Linked DNA regions of Homo sapiens: all the other regions are linked to region 3. The links come from fine-mapping of genetic effects on plasma protein levels. A gene starts in region 3. Each other region holds a variant in brackets. All regions are shown on one strand. Distances are from middle to middle.

Region 1 (8,187 bases), 140 kb after region 3:
AATTTAACTTAAAGTCCATTGTTTTTATTTGCAAAATTTGGCAACTACAAAAATTGGATCTCAGTTTTGTCCTGTGTCACATGGAGAGAGTTTCACTCAGATCATTGGTTACTCTGAGGATTATAGGAGAACACCATCATAGATAGATTTTCTGTGAAGTTACCAAAGCTTGCACTTTACCTCCTCTGCATGGCCTACATGCGCAGTCTTATACATAGTTTTATATTTATAAATTTCTTAAACCTTCTCTTTGCCCTTAATTATATAAGCTTTGGGACTCTCAAAATTTCCATCTGCTTTTGGAAAACATATTACTGTTTACCTATTAGCTTGCACATAGATGGCACTCAGTAAGTCCCCTTTTCAAACAATAGGGATGCTATGAAGTTAATTCCTCTCTTGTGAATAAGACAGGTGACCGCCAAATGGCTGTCCTCACATTAGACTTCTGTATCCCTAAGTTCCAAAGTGCCATCCTCTAAAACGTGGCACAAGTCTCCCCTCTATCCCCAGATTGACAACACCTTCCCCATACTTTGTGAATGGGGAAGCATTAAGCATTGATATTTCCAGAAATTGACAGTGTGGGGCTCCTATTTGATGAGAGCTTTGGAAAGTCTGTAAATAATAATAAGTGATCCTGACTGTTTGCTACACAGCGGGTTACTCTACAGAATTTGCAATAAAGGCTGCTCAGGGCCTTAGGCAGCAGACTCCATTCCCATGAACTTAGCTGCTATACAAACTGTCAGACTCCATCTCTCCTGGAATCAGGCACACATATGTAGATGACCAGGCATTTCAAACTCATTAATCACTAGGAGCTTACATTAAATATGATAAAGGCAAAGAATCCATTCCCTCAAATTTGTGCAATGCTGTCATTTTTCCCTCTTCTTCCCAGATATCCTGCTTCCCACTAATAGCTACCAATCACTCAGTGTCTACTTCATAAGGAACCATGAGAAAAATTCCTCATGCATCTCAGGAACAGGAACAACTGTGCTGTCTCTCACAGCAGTGTGATTTTGGCCAGCAACATGGGTAGTCTCATGACTAATTGTGCTTTCAAACTATATTTGCCTGGATTATTAGGATAGTCTGTTTCAAAATTACCACCAACATGCAGGAACCTATCAGAACGCTAAGACCAGTATGGCAGGCACCAACATTACTGCTTCAATATATATTTTCTTCCAGCTTATCTTTCTTCTTGCTTTAATTTCCACAGATTGGTCTGTTTTTCTTCCACTGGTATGTGTATATTTCTGGAGACTACCTCAAGTTCTCTTTTCAAAGGAGAAGTATTACATAAATACATACATAAATAAATATTTATTTAGCAGCACTGAGGGAACATTCTGGTTAAATCTTTGGTCAGGACTTATTTGTATCAAGAGCATTGGAGGTCTGACTTTCCCAACTTAATTCTCTAGCATCGTGTGGAGGTGCAAATGGTAGGTGACATATTATTTGCTAAAATTTTAATATGAAAAAATATGATTCCATTGTATAGGAGGTAAACAAAAAAGTAAAATTGGACTTAATTTAGTTTGGCAGTTATATTAATAAGATGGAATTTGAGTGTTAGTTGAAGGGATACATTTCGATTTATGAGGTACTGGAGTAGGTCAAGAAATGTTTTCTTTTCAGTTATTACCACCCCCGGCTGGAGGCAAGTCTAGAAGTGGGGTGTGCAAGGACAGAGCTGATGGCTCTTTATGAGTGCCCACAGAAATATAATTATATGAATTCCAAGAAACTAGTAGCCTTCCTTTGTTGGCAGCCAGGTAAGTCAATAGAGACTCAGGAGGGAGTCTACTCTTGGTTTGGGAAAAAACTTAGACCAAAAAATGAATCATAGTAGAAAAGAGACCAGAGAGAGGGTTGTTTGCCTTCCCTCATGAAGAAGAATTAGTTTTCAGTACCCTGCTGAAGAAAAACAGGATTCTTTGCATTCATACATGCATTTCTCCTCCTTCTCTCAGGTCAATAACTCTGGATATCTCTTACAGAAGAATACTGCTATAGCACACTTGCTATACATTTTATTTAGTGATAATCCCTCAGTACTTACAAAGAGTTCCTGCTATTCTGACTATAAAATACATTTTTAATTGTTAAATTTTATATTAAAATTTTTAAAGCAACCTGAAAAAGTACATTTTGGAAAGTGTTTGGAAAAAGTACATTTTGGAAAATACCATTATAGAATGACATGAATTTTAATGCTGCTTTGTGTTGTGTTGGCAATACCTGAATCTGCAATTGAGAAGGTAATGGATCTTTCATAATCTCGGGGCTATTAATTGAATATGAGACTTGCATAAAAAAATTTGCATCTTGGAACTTGAGCATGGAACCACTCTGAGTATTGTATTCTTTCACTCCATAAAAAGGATCATTTTTTAAATGGACTAGTTTTTTGAAACTACATTGGGAGGAAAGAAAATTCAAAAGAAAACATTTGTAAAATTAAACCAATGGACTATTGATCTGCAAAGAATATTTGCTCAAAAAGGTGACAAAAATCAACATGAATTTTGGTTGCCAAGACCTTTTTCCAGCTTTTCACAACTGGTGCTTTCAGGGCTTTGGCAGAGTTTGACACATGCACCCAGCCTGGCAGCTCTGTGTTCAGGCGCTTGTGTAAGCACTGGACTCATACAAGGGTGTCCCACGTTGCTCATTTATGGAATCACAGCAAAAGTTTTACCTTCCTTCCTCTTCCACTATTATCACTGTACGTATTGTGAGATGAACATTGTCATATACTAAAATTTACATACAACTGTATTTTTTGTTAACAGAGACCAAAAGGGGATATAATAAGAAAGCACAGTAACTTATTATTAGCAGTCTTAATAAAAAAGCAAGGTGGGGCCAGGTGTGGTGGCTCATGCCTGTAATCCCAGCACTTTGGGAGGCCGAGGCGGGCAGATCAAGAGGTCAGGAGATAGAGACAAGCCTGGCTAACACTGTGAAACACTGTCTCTACTAAAAATACAAAAAATTAGCCAGGCGTGGTGGCACACACCTCTAGTCCCAGCTACTCGGGAGGCTGAGGCAGGAGAATCTCTTGTACCCAGGAGGCAGAGGTTACAGTGAGCCCAGATTGTGCCACTGCACTCCATCCTGGGGAACACAGCAAGACTCCATCTCAAAAAAATAAATAAAATAAAATAAAGGAAGGTGGAAATGTCCACTTCATAGCTTATTCACCTCAGAGATATTATTACTAGGTTGAGGCTGAAGATTAAGGGTCGAAGTTGATGTTGGTTGACATGTAACTGCCTGAAGTCTGAATAGGGAGTTAATTTTGCAAATTAACCACTATGACTCCAAGTCTGCACTGAGACATTCACTGGCACTTTCGGTTCATTGTCCTTGGACCCCTTCTGTCCAATTTCCAGGCCAGAATTGAAGTTTGAAAATTGCTGGTAGACTACTATAATCTCTATTTCAGGGAAAGTAAGAATGAGTGCCAATATGAAAGGAGAATCTCCCCTCCATACTCAGTAACTTTCTTCTTTATATAGATTGATAAAGCAGGCTTCTTTTGTAATTACTCACTCATTAGTGTAATTCAGTTGCTGGCACAGATCTTATTTAAGCCCCGTTGACATAAAATGGACTAGCCTCTATGACAAAAGTTCTATCAGCAGACAGATATATAAATATATTTCACTGCGATTAGATCTTCACGATAACTACAAAGTAAAAGGCTGTGAATTGTTATGTTACATTAGATATGAGAAAATTGAAGCTCTATTAGTTTAAATGACTTGTCTCGGTCAATTAGAGTAAAAGCAGCAGAGTTGAGACTCAAGCCCTGCTAGGCGTTCCACCTGCAAATACTATGCTCCTTCATCTATATTATGCAATCTCCTCTTCATTAATAGATAAGACAGTAAAAATAGTCATTTTACTGGTTGCC[G/A]TTGTGGCCAGAAGTTGACATTTCTCTGTTGAAAATTGTTCACACTGAATATACACCCTCTGAGAAGTTACTCTGGCATTGAATTAACCTGCACTGCTTTAACTTTTCCACTTTTTCCCCAACTTTTACATTAACATCAGAAACTAATAGCAATATTAAGGACATAAATGTAATCATGTATTTGAACATATTTCGAGGGCTACTGAAGAAGCCTCCTTATTTTAGGATAATTATCAGAGTTCCACTGGAGTTGTCTCAGTGTAGGAAGTTCCATAGCTAGTCTTCGTAGATTGGGGTTATCAGCAGTCTTCAAACTTGGGGGTCACAGCATCCCAGAAGGGGCTCTTACTCTAGCCCTGGCTGATTCCAAAGATACAAGAATGTTTAATGTAAGAAACAGTTTTAGAAAAATGAGACAAATTATATTAAAATTTGCCTTAAGTTCACATTTATTTACGTGAACTCTTTGGCATAAGGCATTTAATACTCTCTTTAAAAAACATGGATGTGAATAAGTGAAGTAAAACATATACAGGGAAAAAGGATTCCAAGTTATTGCAGATAATTACTTTTCAGGTCAATTTTTATTTCTTTAAACCACTCACTTATCCATAGGAGTCAAGGCTTTGACTAACACAAAGTCTAACACTAGAATTTGAAAGCAGACTTTATTCATTTGCATAAAAGATAAAGCCTGCCACCAAGAAAGGATTTTGTCTTTCTTATAAAGAAGCCAACATTACCCTAAGCCATAATAAGTTTTGAACACTAGGTTTCTTGTTTGTAGATTGTATGACTAATATGAAAGACAATTACTAAATAGTATAAACTCAAGTTACATCCTTCTATCCTCTCATTTCTCAATATCTTCAAATAAAACAATGCCATTTTGGACACAGGCTAATGGAACTGGAATGTGCTTCAGGGCAAAGAACTTGGTAAGCAAGGAAAGTCATAAAATTATGCCTTTTTTTTTTTAAATTAAGAGAGACTAATGGTGCACTTTTCTGTTTAAGATATGCCAAAAATGAAATTAGAAGATGTGTTGTCTAAATTTTTACTCCTTCAGAAAGCATTTATTTTTCTCATACTTTCTGCTTGAAGTGTGAGTACTATGGTGTCACTGAATTCAAAGCTATTTTTATTTTTGTAATTTGCAGCTAAATCTGATCCCAAAAGATGGTTGTTAAGGATGAACATGGCTCTTTCCACTGAATTTTCAGTAAAATAATTATAATGGGGATTGATTGGTGGATTAACATAAAAATTAAAATACAAAATCCCCTTGTTCTTACATGGCAAAATAAGGTAAAATCTCTTATTCTTAACTGCCTTTTCCTGAAACAGTGTATAATTCCACCATTTGTTCTCTTTAAAAGAAAGATTTGGGCTAGAGAGAGACAGCTTAAACTCGTCTCATCTGCTTGCACCGCTCTCCAAGTAGGTAATTGCAGAAAGAAAAGACAATTCTTTGATCTCAGCGAGGTGCTAATTTGTAAGATTTTTGAGCTGTTTGGGCCTTAGGAAGCAGGGATCAGTACGTAAACAATGGCATTTATCTGGCAGCCTATTACTGACACATTACTATCTCAGTACTTATTCATTTACACTGGTGTTTGAAGACAGGACTATGTGTCAATAAAGGAATTAGACCAGACACCTCAGTCCATCAGGTTTATTTCAGTTTGCTGACAGGAACAGTAGGTGACATTAAGCAACAGAAAACACTTCAAAGTTTTCTATCCTTGGTTTTGCAATGAAGACAAACAACATTTACTGCTTTAGCAGCAACAAACAATGAGCGTAAGACTGCAGAGGGAAGATGAAAGAGCACACCAAATTATCAAACACAAAGCCTGCCCCTACCCCATTTCTACTCATCCCCTGAATTTCATTAGAGCGATTTTTTAAAAAGAGCTTCCAGTGATAAGTTGTGTTCATTTGGACCTCTTAGAAGACAACTCTCTTGAGAAGGACGGTAGGAAATGAATGAATAAGAAAATTTTACTTGACTGTTCAGTAGCTACTTTTTTTTTTTTTGACCAACTTTTCTTTTAAGTTCCAGGGTACCTGTGCAGGATGTGCAAGTTTGTTACATAGGGAAACGTGTGCCATGGTAGTTTGCTGCACAGATCAACCCATCACCAGGTATTAAGCCCGGCACCCATTGGCTGTTCTTCCTGGTGTTCTCCCTCCCACCCGCCACAGGCCCCCGTGTGTGTTGTTGCCCCCGATGTGTCCATGTGTTCTCATCGTTAAGTTCCCACTTGTAAGTGAGAACATGCGGTGTTTGGTTTTCTGTTCCTCAGCAGCTACTCTTAATTAAATATTTCAATATTCATTTATTTAAACATCTTTTCAATAAACAGTCAAGGTGTGTCCACTATAAACTAGACCTGAATAAAGATGATACTATTACTTTTACAGATTCCTGGAACTATGAAAGGTAACATGAAGTTATAATACAGCACCATCTTAGGCAAATGCAAGGTTGTATTTGAGGCGCTGTGGAAATAAGGTAGATGAACTGTGTCTCAGAGGGATTGCCAAATGCTCAAATGGATTGGGAAATGTTTTTCAATTAACATGTAAATTGAAAAACACTTGAAAGAAATACTTTCCTGCATCATCAAATAAAAATTCCTCTCAGATTTCTTCCTCTGTACATCTCAATTTGGAATGATTTACCAGTGTTTGGGTATGCTTTACATACAACTTTGTTAAAATTTTGAAATATAGATTAATTAGCTTATTCAGTAAATATTCATTGAATGAATGTTATAGCACTCCTTGTTCTAGCCCGACACAGTGCACAGAACAAGACAGTCTAGATCCTTGTTTTTATGTGGGATGGAAAACAATGAACTGAAAATGTTGTGATGCTGAAAATTACATAAAGGGAAAGAACAAAGTGGTGGGATAAAGAGTGAGTGGAAGGAGGTGGAAGTAACATTAATAAAATTGGTACTGTAGACTGAGTGGTCATGAAAAAAAACTGTAATGATAGGAAGTAATCATGAAGTAAAAGGAACATTTAGGCAGCGGGAAGAACAGATAGGACAATATATTGACATGCTGGAAAAACAAAGGGCTGGACAATATATTGACATGCTGGAAAAACAAAGGGCTGGTCTAGAGAAGGGATAGTGAACGAGGGAGAGAGTGAGGTAGCAGATGAAAGCTGGAGAGGAAAATGGGGGAGAGGCTATACTGAGGAAGGGAGGGGATATTAGGAGATGAAGGCATAGACATAAAGGAGATCAATTTGTAGGTGATTTCAAGTACTGGTAATAATTTTAGAACATACTCTATTTAGAAGGTATTCTAGTTTTGCTTAACCCATATGCAGCATTTGACCTTGTTAATTTCTCCTTCCTCATGGAAACCCTTTGCTGCTTGGCTTTCAGACACCACACTCTCCTGGTTACCTCCATCTTCACTGGCTGCCCCTTCTCAGTCTCCTTTGCTGGCTCTTCCTCATCTTCCAGTTTACAATGGAGTGTCTCAGGGCTCCGTCTTCAGACTTCTTCCCTTTTCTATTTACATTCACTTCCTCCATGATCTCACTCAGTCTCACGGCTTCAAACAACATCTGTAACAGAATGACTACCAAAATTATATTTCCAGCCTCTACCTCTCCTTTCAAATCCACATTTAAACATCCAACTGCTTACTTGGCATCTTGGCTTGGATGTGCAATCTGCATCTCGAATGCACCCATCCTAAAACCAAGTTTCGTGATATTCTCCCCTAAATCTCTTCTTCCCTTAGACTTCCTTATTTTAAGTAATGGCTGTTCCAGACTTTCAGTTGATCAGACTAAAAACCCTGGATCCATCCTTGCTCCCTCTGTGCCCCCTCCTCACAGATGCTGAGCATGTTTTCGGCTCACCCAGTTCTAACATTTCACCTAAAGTAGAGCAGTAGAGTTCTAAGTGGTCTCCCCACCTTGGCCTTTGTTCCCCTTCAGACAATCCTCATCGCAGTAGCCTGTGTTCCTTCTAAACCCTAAGCCAGAGCCTGTCTCTTCCCTGCTCAGCACCGTACTCAGAGTCTACAAGGACTCAGGCCCTCCCTAACCTAGACTCTGTCATCTCTCTAACATCATCTTGAATTCTCCCCACCTCTCTCACTCTGCTTCTTGCTGTTCCTGCACTTGCTTTTTCTGCTCCGTGGAATGCTATTACCCTCAAACTCCACCTCCTTTCTGACTCACCTTCTTCAGGTCTTTACTGAAAAGGCATCTTCAC
Region 2 (8,187 bases), 340 kb after region 3:
ATGCTTTTCTTGTTTCTTACAGTCCTTAAGTATTGTTTACCTAATATCTGGTATATGGTATCTGTATTAGTCCTATAAGACACATCTTTCTTAAATTTGTAACTGTCCCTTCATCTCACAGTTTTCTAATGACCTTCTACAGAAAGCCTTAAACCCAACATCTGCCTTCCCCAGAAATCTTATCTTTTTTCCATCCAAGTCCCAAAAAGCTACTACTGCCCTCATTTTCTTTTACCTTCTCCATTGCACACACATCTGCTAATGCTAATTGGCTTTCTTTAAGATCTCCTAGAGGGAATCAGACATTCTAACCCACAGAGAGGTTATCATTTCGTTCATCTGGTTCTGCAAACATTAAGAAGTTACTATCTACTTACTGAAAGACATGTTGCCTCATCTTTGTATAAACTTACAAAAAGGAAAGAAAACCCAGTGGGTTCATGCTTTCTTTGCTTCCAATTTGTGGCTCAGAAAAAAATCAAAATTATTGTAGAACATGAGTCCAAAAGCTAAACAAAATAGACATATTTATCAGACAAGGACTGATTTAGAAAGTGTTTTTGAAGATTAGCATGCAGAGGGAGACAAAGTTTAATGTTAAAAAGCATGCTCTGCAAGACTGAAATGTTATTTAAGAAATTAAGTTTGAAATTGTTTTAATTAGTATACATGTGGAAACAATAGAAATCCACCAACTAGAAAATATATCCATCCAATCCTGAATGTGCCCAGGCATTTTATGAATCATTTTATGTTAGAATTCCAAGAAAGAGAATATTATAACTCTTTAGTAACAGCAAATTTATCCTATAATTACTTTCTCTCTTTCTATTCCCTTGTTTATGTGCCCCTTATAATGTGAGCATCACTGGATATGATTGCAGAGTTTGAAGATACATCTTTTTCATACAGCATTTCCCCTATTTCTGGAGTAAAAATTGGTTATCAGACTAACTGAAAGATACTATATTTGGAGCTTTTCATAGAGTAAAAAATAAATTATTTTATGAGCAACTTAAAGAATTTTCAAGAATAACTTTTATAAATGCAGCGTTTGCCTTAAGTACTAATTTCAGAATCTAACTTTGACTGAAATGAGACTCTGCTAGATTAGTCAAAATCTGCCTCTTGACTATTTCTCTTCATTAGCTGTGAGTTTTTTAGCTTAGAGTCATTAAATCTCTTTTTCTCTTACACAGAAGTGAGAGGGACACCTGAAATCCTAGGCCTGGGAGGGGTGGAGGCCTTTAGCATCACGTAGCTTTGTACAGATTCAAAAAGCACTGGATGACTGTTGAGGGTTTTTGAATAAGCAGTTTAGGTGAGATGATATATTTTTAAGACACCAAACTGATTTTCTCCATTTTTTGTTACCTCGTAATCCTTAATCCAGAGACTCAAATGCCTGTAATTACTTGTAAGAAGATAGAGAATGAAGTCAATTTTCGGTCTGAAAAATTTGATTCAATTTTTTTTTTATCCAGAGCAAGATAATATCTACCAAGTCATGATTTTACTTTTTTTTTAAGAAAAATAGATTTTTTAAATCCTAAAGCTTCCTTTTTACATCAAGGATCGAACTTAGAATTTAAGGCTTAGAGCTTTGCTATGGTACTCTGTGAGGAAAGATAAAAGAGATGGTGTTTCCTTGGGATAGAAAATAGAAATAGAAAACTCTTCAACTTCTGAGATTAGAAAATGAGGGGCTGTAAAAACCAGGTGATTTAGGTGAGGATGAGCAAGCTGCCCAAGGTCCTTTGGGTGAGGTTTAGAGAGAAGAGGCATATGATAGCCTCTGAACTGGATTCTGTATTGTGCAAGGGGAAATCAGAGAACAGCGAAGCTTCTGCTCTGCTTCCTGCATCGTGCAACATGGCGCATAGTGCTGGATCAGTAACAGGCAGAGAAAGGGTCCAGATGTGTAGCCTTGGGACAGAAAACCCCTGGTCTACAGTCTGCACCTGATATGGAAAAGGCCCAGATATTCCAGCATGACCATGTGAGGGAAGAATTATGTGAGTCGAGAATGAAAAGACAGAATAACTAAATAAAATTAGGCATAACTGCCAAGGGGTTATCATGTGCTCGAGGTGTGGAGACCACTGCAAGGTCAACAGCCCCAAGAAAATGGCAATAAGTCTCAGAGAATCAAGGCTGCCAGAAAGAATCAAAGTTCAGAGCCTCACTAGCATGAGGAGTTTGCTGACTTTCATAGAAGCAGTCACTCAGCTCTGTCTACCCAGACAGCACAGACCTTAGCTTTAGAATCCACAGATACTACAGCAAACACATGCAGCAAGGAGAGAGAACAATGCCACGACCTCCCTTTTATTCATCAGTCAGAGTCAGCAGGGCTGGCAGAGGACAAATTGTGGATCATAGCTGTCTTTTACTTCTTCTCACGAGATTGCATGTCCCTAGATACCATCCTAAAAGCATTGAAGAGGTAAGAAATCCAAAATGATTGTTTACCCTTAAGAGTGTTTTGTCCGGGCACGGTGGCTCACGCCTGTAATCCCAGCACTTTGGGAGGCCGAGGTGGGCGAATCACGAGGTCAGGAATTCAAGACCAGCCTGGCCAACATGGTGAAACCCCATCTCTCCTAAAAATACAAAAAAAAAAAAATACTACCCAGGCATGGTGGTGCATGCCTGTAGTCCCAGCTACTCAGAAGGCTGAGGCAGGAGAATTGCTTGAACCTGGGAAGTGGAGGTTGCAGTGAGCTGAGATCGTGCCACTGCACTCCAGCCTGGGTGACACAGTTGAGACTCTGTCTCAAAAAAAAAAAAAGAGTGTTTTAACCTGAGAGCCTTTAAAACCACAAGAGACAGAGTTACTGTTCATCAGGTTTTAGGGTTGTTTGTTTGGGATTTTTTTTTTTTTAATCAGCATGATGGAGGGCAAAATAAGGTCAATTATAGAACATAACAAATTACTATTTTTGTACAACTTAATTGGCGTGTGTAAATGTTAACCTGGCTGTAGAAGTATCTGTATGCTGTTCAACCCCCTTCTTTCCTACCTTATACAAACTCTCTCATCAACACAATGTAGAATTTACTTTTTTCACTATCCCTACTGGTAGTAAAGATAATAATATGTACAGAAATTTAGCAGATATGAGTCAAATACAATCAAAATGTTTCTTGAAACATTAGGAGAAATAGGAAGTATTTACATATGAATCAGGCAAGAGTGAAAAAGAAAACCTTATTCTCAAAGAAAAACTGCCACTTTGGATGGTGGTCAACTGGCATGGTTTATTTTGACTACCATCCTCCATGTATTTAATGAATGAGGCAAGCCCGTTGGCTTGTTACAATAACAACTTGGCAGTTAGACATCCTCCTAAACAATGTGCCAGCTTGAGAGGATAATTGACAATGCCACACACTGTGATCATTTATAACCCTGGGGTGTTCTTCTGAGATTTATTTTTAGTTATTTGATGACACAATTTTCCTGATCCACAATATTTTGCTCTTTTCCCCCAACGTTCGT[A/C]TCTGACCAAACCACAAAATGAATGCTCGATAAATCATCTCATATTCTTGCCACTTAAAAATCTTTTCTGCTTGTTTTCTTAAACTCTCCACTTGTTTGCTGCTCAGATGTACCTCTTATTTTAAGAAGCTAAAGAGGCAAATAGTTTTTAATTGCCCTGCAAATATTTACATCCTATACATCCTGTGATTACAGCAATTACACTTATCAGTTTTCCACCCCCTGCTAAAGTAACCGCAACATTATCATGAGGAAATCATGAAAAAAAAAAAAAAAAAAGCTGCAGCACACTCATTCCACTTTGAATATAATGGAAGAAGAAATGCCCATCCTTCACTAACTTGAACTACAAGATTATTTTCCACCCTCAGGAGGAACTGGTCTTTTCCCACCACTGATGGGCCACCACTGTTGCAGGATTTAAGTGTTACCTCGGAAATACCAAAAAGATAGTTCTATTACAATGTTGTATCCTATAAATACTCGAGTTATGCCTGTAATTGCCTTGAAATACATTGCCTGCTGTGCTTGCTTATGTCCAAGAGCAGGTTAGAAGGTCAGACTCAGACCTTTTGTAGCCTTGATAACTGGCTGTTACATGATTATGAAGTGAGTGGGAGAAGAAGCAATAGTTAATATTTGTGTTTCATTCACCAAAGAAATCCTTCTGGAACTCTTCATGGGATAATGATGAAATTCATTCGATTCATATTTGCATTTAAAGTATTAAGGTTTTTTCAAAAATAAAATATATAGCAAGGGCAGAAATTTTTGCTCGCAAATAGACCTTTCTAGTAATTTCAGTGTCAGATGTTGTATAGACTCTGTGCCTCAGACATTTAATGGCCTTTTCCCTGGACTCTTGCTCTTGGAATAGATTAGATTTAGAATCTGAAAATAGCAATGCCAATGCCAGGCTGGGTGGGGAGTACTGTGTGGTTCTGCCAAAGTACATGATGAGCTGTTCCCTAAGTAACTGGGTCATTTCTGAAATTCACGAGGGAAGAGGCACACTTGTGTTCTGTTTGCATGGAACAACAGTGACATCCAGTGCTAATACCGTTGATGTGAGCCTGAAATAATAACATCACATCGGCTGGTGTGGTGGCTTATGCCTGTAATCCCAGCACTTTGGGAGGCCAATTTGGGTAGATCACCTGAGGTCTGGAGTTCAAGACCAGCCTGGTCAACATGGTGAAATCCCGTCTCTACTAAAAAAATACAAAAATTAGCCAGGTGTGGTGGCAGGTGCCTGTAATCCCAGCTACTTGGGAAGCTGAGGCAGGAGAATCACTTGAACCTAGGAGGCAGAAGTTGCAGTGAGCCGAGATCACGCCATTGCACTCCATCCTGGGCAACAAGAGCAAAACTTTGTTGCAAAGAAAAAATATAATAATAATAATAATAATAATAATAATAATAATAATACCATCACATCATTTCTTGGTAAATGAACAAATACAATGACAAGGGAAATGTGGTTAAGGTTAGTGTCTTCACTAATAGCTGCTAATAACAGAGACAAATGCTATTTAAGGTTAGGGAGAGCATTTACCTAGCACATCCTAGCAGAAAGCAGTGTAGACTTCGTTTCATTTCCAGCCTCACTTCTGGGAAATACTGGCAGGGCACTTGGACCCTCAGCACCCTCTCAGTTTATCTCTTGGTACTCTCTCTTTAGTTTTGCTCCTGTAAGATAGTGGCAGGGCCCTTGAACTTTCAACACTCTCGGTTTATCTCTCAGTACTCTCTTAAGTTTATCTGTAAAATGGAAATAATGATGCCAGTTCACCATTTGACCACAGATGCTTCAAGCTCAGCATAAAGTCATTTGGAGTTGTCTTTTCTCCAGAGGGAAGATAAATATTCAGAGACATCATGAAAGCATGGACATATAGAGGAGCATTTGGACATACAGAGAAGTCCAAATTGCTTGTAATGTTATTGGGACTATTTAAGATTTTATTGCAGATTGTCTTCTTTCTGGAGAGAGTCATTTCTTTGTTCTCTATCATGATTGAGAAGGCCACCTGTGGTCTATCTAGTTCTTCACACAGTGTAGGTGCTTCTTACATTGCCTTGTGTTGGGGAAGACCCACCTTCTGAGCTATAATATAAATTGTTTGTCTATTTGCCTATTTGTTTGACTTTGGCAATAAATATCTCCTCAATAAACGATCCTCTAATCCATCTAGCATTTATTGAATAACTATTACAAGCAAGCATAGTGCTAGGCCCTGCTCATATATTATCTTTAATTTTTACATTATTCAACTAAGGTGGATTCTGCCTTCATTTTATAGGTAAGAAAAGTGCAACTTAGAGGCTCTCAATAATTTGCTCACACTTACAAAACTGGTAAGTGGGAATTGCAGGTTTGCCCTCAGACTTTCTAACACCACTGTGACCTTTGTTCAAAATGGAGTGCAGAATCCTGAGCCACTTGGGTAACATTTCAAGGACCCTTAGAGACTAATAGGTGGGCCTCTCTGTTGGTAAGAACTCTAGTTCACTGAGATTTTTCATTAATACTTTTGCATGTATGTAGCACACGAACTACATGTTTCCAACTGAATTTTAATCTCCTTTACACAACAACTGTAGTTTTATCTTTGTTACCAGGCTGAATATAATTTTGAATACTGTGTTGAGATCCTCCCTTTACATTTGTTTGAGATGGAAAGATGAACCAAACATGGGCCTGTACACAAGTTTTGATCGCTTTTTTTTTCCATTCAAATGCTTTAGGAAGACTGGTGGAATTACGTTTTTTAAGAAAGTGAAGTCATGTGGTAACTTTTATTTGGGTTCTATTCAATTTTGGGTTTTGTAGAAGACAGGGACCAAGTCTTTTGGGTCTTTGATGACCCGTAATACCTAGTTCAATAATTTAGACATCCTAGAGGATCAATAAAAGTTGAATTTGATGACATATTAGGTTTTATTCCGTGAACTTTAGCTAGTAGAGAAAGCACTTTCATTTCCCAGAGGCAGAGAGAAAAGTCTTGATTTATACAGTGCTTCCAGTTCCCATTTTCTCAGATGAATTAGGCTTTGAGCTCTGAAGAATTAACTAGTGTCTGTTTTCCCAGGAAGAGAAACCCAGTAGGAAAACACCTACACTTCAGTCTTAGGGAGGGATCCTGGAAGGACTCAAAGCACCCAATGGAGAAAGAAGGACCTTTGATGGGATCCGAGGCAGAACTGAATATATTTGTGAATATACAGTTTCAGCATAGCAAAAAATGACTTCATGGACCAGAATCTATCTTTTTCTTTCTCAGTAGTATGTGAGACAAAACACAGAAGATACAATTTGAGGCAAGAAAACCATCTTTATTTCTGCTAAACTATGTGAACTCTGAGGACAGGGAGTGTGGCTGTCTTGTTGACGACTGAGTCCAGTAACACAGATCTTAATACCAAGACTAGCATGCAATACTTAGTAAAATTGTTATAGTAGTTAATACGTGAATGAATAAATGAGAGGATAAGTGTTTTGTAGAGAATTGCTTGGAAATACTGGACAGGTCCAGGGTGGAGTTCAGAACAGGAAACATCCAGATAACTGTTCCCAAACACTGCCCAATGAGTAGCCACCAGTCACATGTGGCTATTGACATTTAATTAAATAAAATGAGAAATTTTGTTTCTCAGTCTCGCTAGCCAGATGTATTAGTGACTACCATAAAGTACAGTGCAAATATAGAACATTTCCATCAATACCGAAAGTTCTACTGGATAATGTTACTCTAGGGTACAAGGTTGAAAGAACAAAAGCCAAGCATATCTTAAAAGGTTTTTTTGGTTGTTGTTGTTTGTTTGTTTTTTATAGTATCCATCCCAGCTCACAAGTAAAAATATATTCGGGTTCCTAGGGTTTTAAGGAACTTCTGGAATAAATAATATGCTTTTGGCTGAAGAGCATCATGTATTGTATTTCATGACAGTAATACCTAAAACAAAACCTGTGTTGGGGGAAAAGCTGTAGGGTAGAAAGAAATCTTCAATACCTTCCCTGTTCAGTCCAGTTTCTAGTTATTGGCATAGATTCTAGGGATTCTTAATTATTCCTTTTGGGACTCTGAGGATTGAGAACAAATTTTTACATTAAAAAATAAAAAATAAACTTTTCTTTCATAACAAAAGTTGAAATTTAGAAAATAAAAAATAAATAAAAGTGTAAAAATTAAAATAGCCAATTATCTCCTGAAATAATCATGTTCTAGAATGTATTTATTCTGCCTTTTTTCTATGGACTTTTATTTATAGACATAATACATCATGAACCATTTACCATGTTATTGTTCTTGTACATTCTTAGCAACATGTTTTCCATAATGGTATTTTATTACATTAGGTAGATGTATTACAAATTACTTAACCATATCTTGTTATTAAACATTTAATTAATTGTTTTTCGTCTCATGACAATCTATACATCAAATGTTCTTGCACACAAAGTTTGCATACTTCCTTAAAATTATTTTGAAAGCTGGGAATTCTGGATCAAATTGCAAGCAAAATTTCAAGCCTTTCTCACACGCATTGCCAAATTTGCCCTCTACATTCATGCTTAAGCATGAGTTTGTCCATTGGATTTTTACTAGATGCGTGCTCTGCTAACAAAACCATACGTATAGGATTTGTACTTGACTGTTACTCTTGGGGTTCAACTTGTGGGA
Region 3 (8,187 bases):
AGACCCTGTTTCTACAAAAAAATTAAAAATTAGCCAGGTGTGGTGGCATGCAGCTGTAGTCCCAGCTACTTGGGGGTGAGGTGGAAGAACCGCTTGAGCCTGGGAGGTCAAGGCTGCAGTTAACCACGATTGCACCACTGTGCTCCAGCCTGAGCGACAGAATGAGATCCTGTCTCAAAAAATATATAAAAATATATAAAATAAAAAAAATCAGCAGTCACAAATAATAGAGATGGAAAAATAGTTGGTGAATAGCATGGAGTGTTTTGGAGTATATTTGTCTGTCTCCCTCATGGATGAAAAGGTTGAGAAATATTCTATGCATGGCATCCAGCACTTAAAATATAAAGAAGACATGTGTTAGCATGCTGTTCCCGAGTTATGAGGTTCAATTCCACGCTGATAAGCATATTTCACCTATTCAAAAATATAATACAAAATATTAAATTTGTTACATTAATTATGATCATATTTATACCAGACTGAATAGGAGGCAGGGTTCCCTACAGGACTAAATAAACTCAGTTTAATAAACTAAATTCATCTACTCTGGCTCCCACCTCCTCTGTCACCCAGCTGTAAGAGAGACTCAGACAATCACCAGAACCCTCTCTCCTTCCTAAGACATGTTGGTCACAGTTCCTGCACATTTTTCTTGCTCTCCATGACCTAGTATCTGCCAAAATATAATCGATGTTGGAAAAATTTTTACCCCCAGCCCCATGTAAGTATGTTGTATTTCCCCAACTAGTCACAGACTGAAAGCTGAGGACAAGAAGCCTGCCTTTCATATTGTGAGATATGCTCCCAATAATGGATACTCACCGAATATTAACTGGCTGCTGATGGAACAATGAGTTTTACTATACCTCTTTATCTACCTTGCACTCTTGTTGCCAATGAACAAACCACATCCTGGAAAGGATTTTCAAATGGAGAAAAAGTACTGAAAAAATAAATTTCCTCATTTGGAACAAAGGTTTGATTTGCTATGTACTTAGCCCTCTCTGAGGACCACCCATGTAATTTCTCCCCTGAATAATTTGTGAGGTTACCTCTCCTCTGCCCACTAAATGATTTGAAGGTAGATTATATGTGAACTCATCTTTTATCACACAATATCATGTATAATGCTTAGCACAAAGTAGGAACTCAGATATTGACCAACTCATTATTAGTTTTAAACTCATGACAACTTCAGGAGCAATGTGAAAGCTGAGGAAGGAGGTAGAAGCTAGCCCATTCTTGAAACTCTATGCTTGGTTTAGCTCTCCTAGCTCAATACCACAGATTCTGTCCAGACTCAGTGAATATTGAAACATAATAGACAAATGATATGTGTTCAGAGATCAAGGTTGAATTTATGCAACAAGCTTCTTTGTTATAACAGAATTTTCCTTTTGTTGATTAAATTGTTCCACTTTCTCTTCTTTTGCCCCAGGCAATGGATTTTTTTTGTGAAGCCAAGCTTTTAATGAACCAAGTTCATTAAATGTATTAATCATATACTATCTCTTCAGAAAAAAAGGCAAGAGATTGGCCTTTAGTGTGGCACAAATATATTTCTAGATTCAAAATATTTAAACAGGTTAATAGGACTAAAAAGAAACATTTTCAACCTTCTGATTGGCAGGCGGATTTTTCTCTACGTTTCAAAGTCATTCAAACTTAACACAGCTTGCAGATTTCCTAGTACACTGAAGGTGCTTAACGCATTGATTCCTGACAGGATAATTTCCTGGACAGATGGAATTTGGGATGGGAAGGACACTAATATAACTAGGGTACCATTCAAGAATTGTTTAGATGATCTTCTTAATATTACCTTTGAAACTGAAGGAACTAGAACACAGACCATAGTAAATTGTGTTTTAATTACTCCTTCTCCCAGTAAACTTTAGGATTTTTTTACTTTAAGATTGTCACTGGCTTTACTTGGTGGTGGCCCCAGTTCTGACTATAGTAGGTCAGCATGTGGAGTCATTATAGACAGCCTAAATCTATACAGCTTAGAGGAAGACAAAATAAATATATCTTACTCTTTTTTAATTCAATAGTGATTATTCAATCATCTCTCCCTTTTCCAAACTCACAAAACAGTTGCTTATTTTCTGACACTTATAATATCAACCTGTTTTTAAAAGAATTATGTATGCTTTTATATTTATTGCTATAATTTTATTGTTACTACATCTTTTATTATTACTGTAATTAGAATAAAGAGAACTTTATTATTTAAAATGAGAGCTGTGTCTCATAAATATTTGTATTCACTGTGCCCCTCCCCCCACCACCCATCTCACCAAAAAATTTAAAAAATAAAAATAAGGTAACAACCCAGAGGGCAGCCCAATGCCAGGGCTCTAGGCTTCCAATAAGTTTTTGTTGAATTAAATAGATCATTTCCCATTTATAAGCATGACATCATTCTTATACACCAGCCTTACTTTATTATATCCACACACCAATTTCAATGACGTCAAATTCACTTTCTAATTCACTTTCAGCTCTTCTTCTCCTCAAGGTTGTTTCTTTTCTCCCTAGAAAGGGTATTGCGTGGTCCCGTGCAAGGTAAGACTTGGGAGCAAACCCTGCATTCGGAAGCGTTGCGATGTGATATACTAATGAGGAAGTCAGGCGCTAAGCCCTAAGGGTTTCTTATTTCTCCACATTAGCCCACCACTGAGAAGGGAGAACCGGGGAAAGGCGACTGACCTGGCACGTTGGACCCTGTCCGCTTTGGTCCCGGCCACTTTGATCTCACGCGTCTGCCTAATCAAGTTCATCTACCGCCGCGATTGCCCTGATTCAAAGAACAACATTAAATGGTTTGATTATCGGATGGTCATTTCCCTCTTCCCTCCACCCCTGATCTAATTTCTAAACGCCAGTCTCTCGCCTCCCTCTCTAAACTTCCCATCAAAAGAGAATTAGCTCTTCTTCCTTCTTACCCTCGTTTGATGTGCAAATTTCCTTCTCTTTGCACATTTTTCTCGCAGTGGCGGGGGGAGGTGGGGGAGGAGGGCAACTGAAGGACCTCAAAGCCGGGGATCTAACTCAGATCTGCAAACTGCGACTCTAAAGGGTTAATGAGCAACTTGCACCCGCCACCTGGCCCTCTCAGAGGCGTCTTGCTAGAGCCATTGAATTACAGACCGGTTTGTATTTAATACTGAATATGACTTGTGTGCACAGTCAGCGAGTATTGGCATAAAGGAGAGGGGCAAAAAGTGCTTTTGCAGAGCCTATCACCCCTCGGCTCTGTAAAGTATTTCAGATCCGGATAATTCAACCCTTACTGCCAGGCAAGGGCACCCAAGTTCCCAGAGTTCCTGCTGCCGCCTGCATTTATTAAAGTCGTCTGCTATAACGCTCGCTGGTAGCCTTCACCCCGAAGGTGAGCCGGGCCAGCCGAGCGACTAAGCAAGGGAGGGGCGGGGTGAAGAGTGTCAAAGGCCCCCCTTCATGTACACAAACACACCCCCTCCCAGCCCCTCCCAGCGCTTTGAAATCCCATCCCGGCTTTGTTGTCTCCCTCCCAAGGGGCCGGAATGCTCCGGGCCCGCGGTATAAAGGCAGCCGCGGTGGCGGTGGCGGCGCAGAGCTCTGTGCTCCCTGCAGTCAGGACTCTGGGACCGCAGGGGGCTCCCGGACCCTGACTCTGCAGCCGAACCGGCACGGTTTCGTGGGGACCCAGGCTTGCAAAGTGACGGTCATTTTCTCTTTCTTTCTCCCTCTTGAGTCCTTCTGAGATGATGGCTCTGGGCGCAGCGGGAGCTACCCGGGTCTTTGTCGCGATGGTAGCGGCGGCTCTCGGCGGCCACCCTCTGCTGGGAGTGAGCGCCACCTTGAACTCGGTTCTCAATTCCAACGCTATCAAGAACCTGCCCCCACCGCTGGGCGGCGCTGCGGGGCACCCAGGCTCTGCAGTCAGCGCCGCGCCGGGAATCCTGTACCCGGGCGGGAATAAGTACCAGACCATTGACAACTACCAGGTGAGAGGGGTCGGGCACTCAGAGGATGCTCTGACCTTGAAAGGGTCCTATCTGGAGACGAGGGAGTAGAACGTGCTGAATGTGTGCGGTTCAGGGAGCATTTGGTAACCCTGCATTTGGGAGCAGTGGGCAGTAACAGGTTTTGGAGAGGTGGACAGATAAGGACTGTGATCAGCGCCCGGGTCCAAGAGGGCGGGTACCTGGACGTCTGGGTGCCTCACCCTCTCCCCGAACCCTTCCCACAGCCGTACCCGTGCGCAGAGGACGAGGAGTGCGGCACTGATGAGTACTGCGCTAGTCCCACCCGCGGAGGGGACGCAGGCGTGCAAATCTGTCTCGCCTGCAGGAAGCGCCGAAAACGCTGCATGCGTCACGCTATGTGCTGCCCCGGGAATTACTGCAAAAATGGTGAGTCCTGAAAGCTCCCTTTCACACTAAAACTGTCCAGCCTTTGAGCGTCTATGAATTGGGCGGGGGCGGGGGGTTGGGGGGGGTGGGGGGAGAAATCTCCGCCCTGAGAACACTGCGGCGCCACCTGCAAATGGGTGTTCAGCATGCAGGATTCCGCTGAAGTATCTTCATTGCAAGTGTTTAATCGGGAAGAAGAGAGAAGTTGGGAGGTCTCTGAGGTCCTTATCTTCCTCCGTGTCCCTCAATGATTCAATACAACGGTTCACCTCGTAGTGGACTCTTCCATAAAAATTTGTCTGGGGAGAACCTTGAGGTCAATTGAGAAGGGGGATGATGAGGAGGACGATGGGATCATACAGATATCAAAGAAACCAGCTTTGGCGTTCAGCTGTCCTTTTCATTTTTCTTATTGTGATTCTCACAGTTTTGCCAGACTGGCCTCGCCTTCTGATTTTTGCTGAAACTGTTGTCAGCCAGAGGACTGATTTATCTGCATTGGCCATTTTTAAGAGAGATCTTGGTACCCTCACAACTTGACTTCTCCATCCTTCCCCCTCCCTCTACCCTCTGCTGCCTTAATATAAGTACTCCTCCCCCCAACCACAGATCCACTAACTTTTAATTTTTCAAAAGGTGGATTTAGACAGCTAAAGAGGTCTCCAGAAATAAGCTAACAGGGCGACGACCCTCCTTAGGACCCAGCAGTACTCCAGGATGAACTAAGTAAATCTCTGTAATATAGAAATTACACAGTAAAGTAACTGGCCGGTGAGATTGCAATGTTCCAGGCAGCTGGAATTGCATTTGCTTAACTTAGTCTGGTAGGACCCATATAGCACCAGGGGCAGAGAAGTTATTTTTAAGAACATTTTTAAAGTGACTGAGTTTCTTTTTCTTACCCCAAAGGTAATATTAAAATGGGCAGAAATCTCACTTGCCCCTACCACAGTTGGTGGGAAAGTATTTTAAATGGCTATACTGGGGATATTACCTATGACTGACTGTATACAGTATACACATTGGTGCTTCTGTCCATCTGGAGAGTTTTGCATTAACAGTAAAGAGGAAGTTTGGCTTGTGTTTAAAATGATGTCACTGCAATGAAGTATCTCAAGTTGATGCTGGCATAACAGACTGCCACTGTCACAGCTGTTAGCAGTAATGCATTACAACCCTGAAGTTAATCACTATTTCCTGCTTCCTTAGGAATATGTGTGTCTTCTGATCAAAATCATTTCCGAGGAGAAATTGAGGAAACCATCACTGAAAGCTTTGGTAATGATCATAGCACCTTGGATGGGTATTCCAGAAGAACCACCTTGTCTTCAAAAATGTATCACACCAAAGGTAAGGATGTTAAGACTCATTCTTAGCACATCAGAAGTGTCTTTTGAATTATTTTAGTGAAACGATGCAGGTTTAACAGTAACTATGTACTTTTTTCCTACTGTCTTCTCCTTCGTAGGACAAGAAGGTTCTGTTTGTCTCCGGTCATCAGACTGTGCCTCAGGATTGTGTTGTGCTAGACACTTCTGGTCCAAGATCTGTAAACCTGTCCTGAAAGAAGGTCAAGTGTGTACCAAGCATAGGAGAAAAGGCTCTCATGGACTAGAAATATTCCAGCGTTGTTACTGTGGAGAAGGTCTGTCTTGCCGGATACAGAAAGATCACCATCAAGCCAGTAATTCTTCTAGGCTTCACACTTGTCAGAGACACTAAACCAGCTATCCAAATGCAGTGAACTCCTTTTATATAATAGATGCTATGAAAACCTTTTATGACCTTCATCAACTCAATCCTAAGGATATACAAGTTCTGTGGTTTCAGTTAAGCATTCCAATAACACCTTCCAAAAACCTGGAGTGTAAGAGCTTTGTTTCTTTATGGAACTCCCCTGTGATTGCAGTAAATTACTGTATTGTAAATTCTCAGTGTGGCACTTACCTGTAAATGCAATGAAACTTTTAATTATTTTTCTAAAGGTGCTGCACTGCCTATTTTTCCTCTTGTTATGTAAATTTTTGTACACATTGATTGTTATCTTGACTGACAAATATTCTATATTGAACTGAAGTAAATCATTTCAGCTTATAGTTCTTAAAAGCATAACCCTTTACCCCATTTAATTCTAGAGTCTAGAACGCAAGGATCTCTTGGAATGACAAATGATAGGTACCTAAAATGTAACATGAAAATACTAGCTTATTTTCTGAAATGTACTATCTTAATGCTTAAATTATATTTCCCTTTAGGCTGTGATAGTTTTTGAAATAAAATTTAACATTTAATATCATGAAATGTTATAAGTAGACATACATTTTGGGATTGTGATCTTAGAGGTTTGTGTGTGTGTACGTATGTGTGTGTTCTACAAGAACGGAAGTGTGATATGTTTAAAGATGATCAGAGAAAAGACAGTGTCTAAATATAAGACAATATTGATCAGCTCTAGAATAACTTTAAAGAAAGACGTGTTCTGCATTGATAAACTCAAATGATCATGGCAGAATGAGAGTGAATCTTACATTACTACTTTCAAAAATAGTTTCCAATAAATTAATAATACCTACCTAAATGGTCAATATTTTTCGGACAAGGAAGAAAATCATCCACAAAAATAATACTCCAAAGTACTTGGTGATTGGCAGGAACAGGATGTGTGCCCATAAATACAGTTAACAAATACATGCAGATTTTGTACCAAACAAAATAATTTGCAGTATCTTGAGTACTACTGCATGCAAAGCAGACTTGTTCTAATTATTTTGGTTTTAAAATAATTATTAATTAAAAATCACAAATCCTTCCTCATTCCACTCTTTTTTTCTCTTGCTAGGTGAGTTTCATATTTCAAGTTTTGTTTAACCTGAAATCTATTGATTGGAATGAGGATACGGATACAGTATTTTAAAGAAAACCCACAGGAATAAAATCTAAATTTTCTTTGCATTTGTACTTGCCAGATTTCATATTGTTTATACTGAGGAAAAGGGAAAGCAAACTTCCCAATTTATACTTTTTCTGTAGTATTCTAAAGTCTGCACCCAAACCACAAAATGCTGCATTTCAGGCCTGCAAAGGATAGTAGTGACTGATCAATCGTGCAAATATTTCCTTAAATAACGCAGATGTACTAGACCGTTTGTTGTTTTTGTGTTTCTGGAAGTGGTTCAATTTCAAGGGTCTCAACCAGTGGGACACAAGCTTTGGTTGGTTCTTCACTGAAAGAGGAACTGGCAGGATGTCTGCTGTTACATTCCTTTTGTCTGGAAGTCTCAGCTTCCTCACCCAGGAGAAACTTTCTTTTTCTACATGCGCTTGTTTTCTGAAGTGCCAGAAAGGCCAATTCTAAGGCCTGCCATGTCCAATAAAGCACAATAAAGGAAAGGAAACAGGAAACTTTTTCTCCAAAAAGAAGAAAGAAGAGCCTTCTGCTTAAGTGGGGAAAGAAGCAAACTTTTAAAGGGCTTTGGTTATTGGATCCCTTCCTTTCTACAGGAACGGACCTCAGTACATTGACCCTAGTGACAGCCTTTCTTGCTTCTCATCTCCAGATGAGAGATGTGTGGAAGAATACAAAACCAACCAGAGGGATGCCTCTTCTTCCTATCCAGCTGAGAAATTAGGAAGGGATTTCTGTTAAAAAGAATTCTTCATATTTATAAAGGTGGAAAATACCAAGAAAATTGTAGGTTTTTATTAGCTAGTAATAGAGGCTAGACGATGGAAATCAGATAAAATACAAATTCAAAAGAGGATTATTTAAGGAATCTAGAACAAT

Direction of the effects. Alleles are on the strand shown, and positions count from the first base shown. The strength of an association depends on the size of the effect and on how common the allele is.
With allele A in place of G in region 1, the plasma level of the protein whose gene starts at base 3,599 in region 3 is lower (weak association).
In carriers of allele A in region 2, the plasma level of the protein whose gene starts at base 3,599 in region 3 tends to be lower than with C alone (weak association).

Evidence for each region. PIP is the posterior inclusion probability: the model's chance that the variant is causal. The UK Biobank Pharma Proteomics Project read protein levels with antibody pairs (Olink). The fine-mapping took linkage between variants from a reference panel, not from the people measured, so its PIPs are less certain.
Region 1: its variant is fine-mapped to the plasma level of the DKK1 protein (UK Biobank, PIP above 0.99).
Region 2: its variant is fine-mapped to the plasma level of the DKK1 protein (UK Biobank, PIP above 0.99).

Annotation. Positions count from the first base shown.
Region 1 is chr10:52,447,221-52,455,407 of GRCh38, forward strand. It overlaps LNCAROD (lncRNA activating regulator of DKK1), which reads right to left. Exons shown (of 4, transcript NR_120641.1): 3 at 7,366-7,529; 4 at 3,657-4,297. Among named protein-coding and RNA genes, the nearest start is that of LNCAROD, 19 kb to the right of the region's middle. RefSeq lists an enhancer at 5,105-5,973. The variant G/A (reference allele first, on the strand shown) is at 3,938.
Region 2 is chr10:52,649,231-52,657,417 of GRCh38, forward strand. The region is part of intron 1 of LOC105378305 (a long non-coding RNA gene); the gene reads right to left. Among named protein-coding and RNA genes, the nearest start is that of MBL2, 120 kb to the right of the region's middle. The variant A/C (reference allele first, on the strand shown) is at 3,503.
Region 3 is chr10:52,310,683-52,318,869 of GRCh38, forward strand. DKK1 (dickkopf Wnt signaling pathway inhibitor 1) reads left to right here and starts at 3,599. Exons shown (of 4, transcript NM_012242.4): 1 at 3,599-3,995; 2 at 4,241-4,403; 3 at 5,613-5,753; 4 at 5,872-6,975. The coding sequence starts at 3,753. The coding sequence ends at 6,125. PRKG1-AS1 (PRKG1 antisense RNA 1) reads right to left here and starts at 3,446. Exons shown (of 6, transcript NR_038277.1): 1 at 2,952-3,446; 2 at 2,716-2,803. RefSeq lists an enhancer at 7,582-8,187.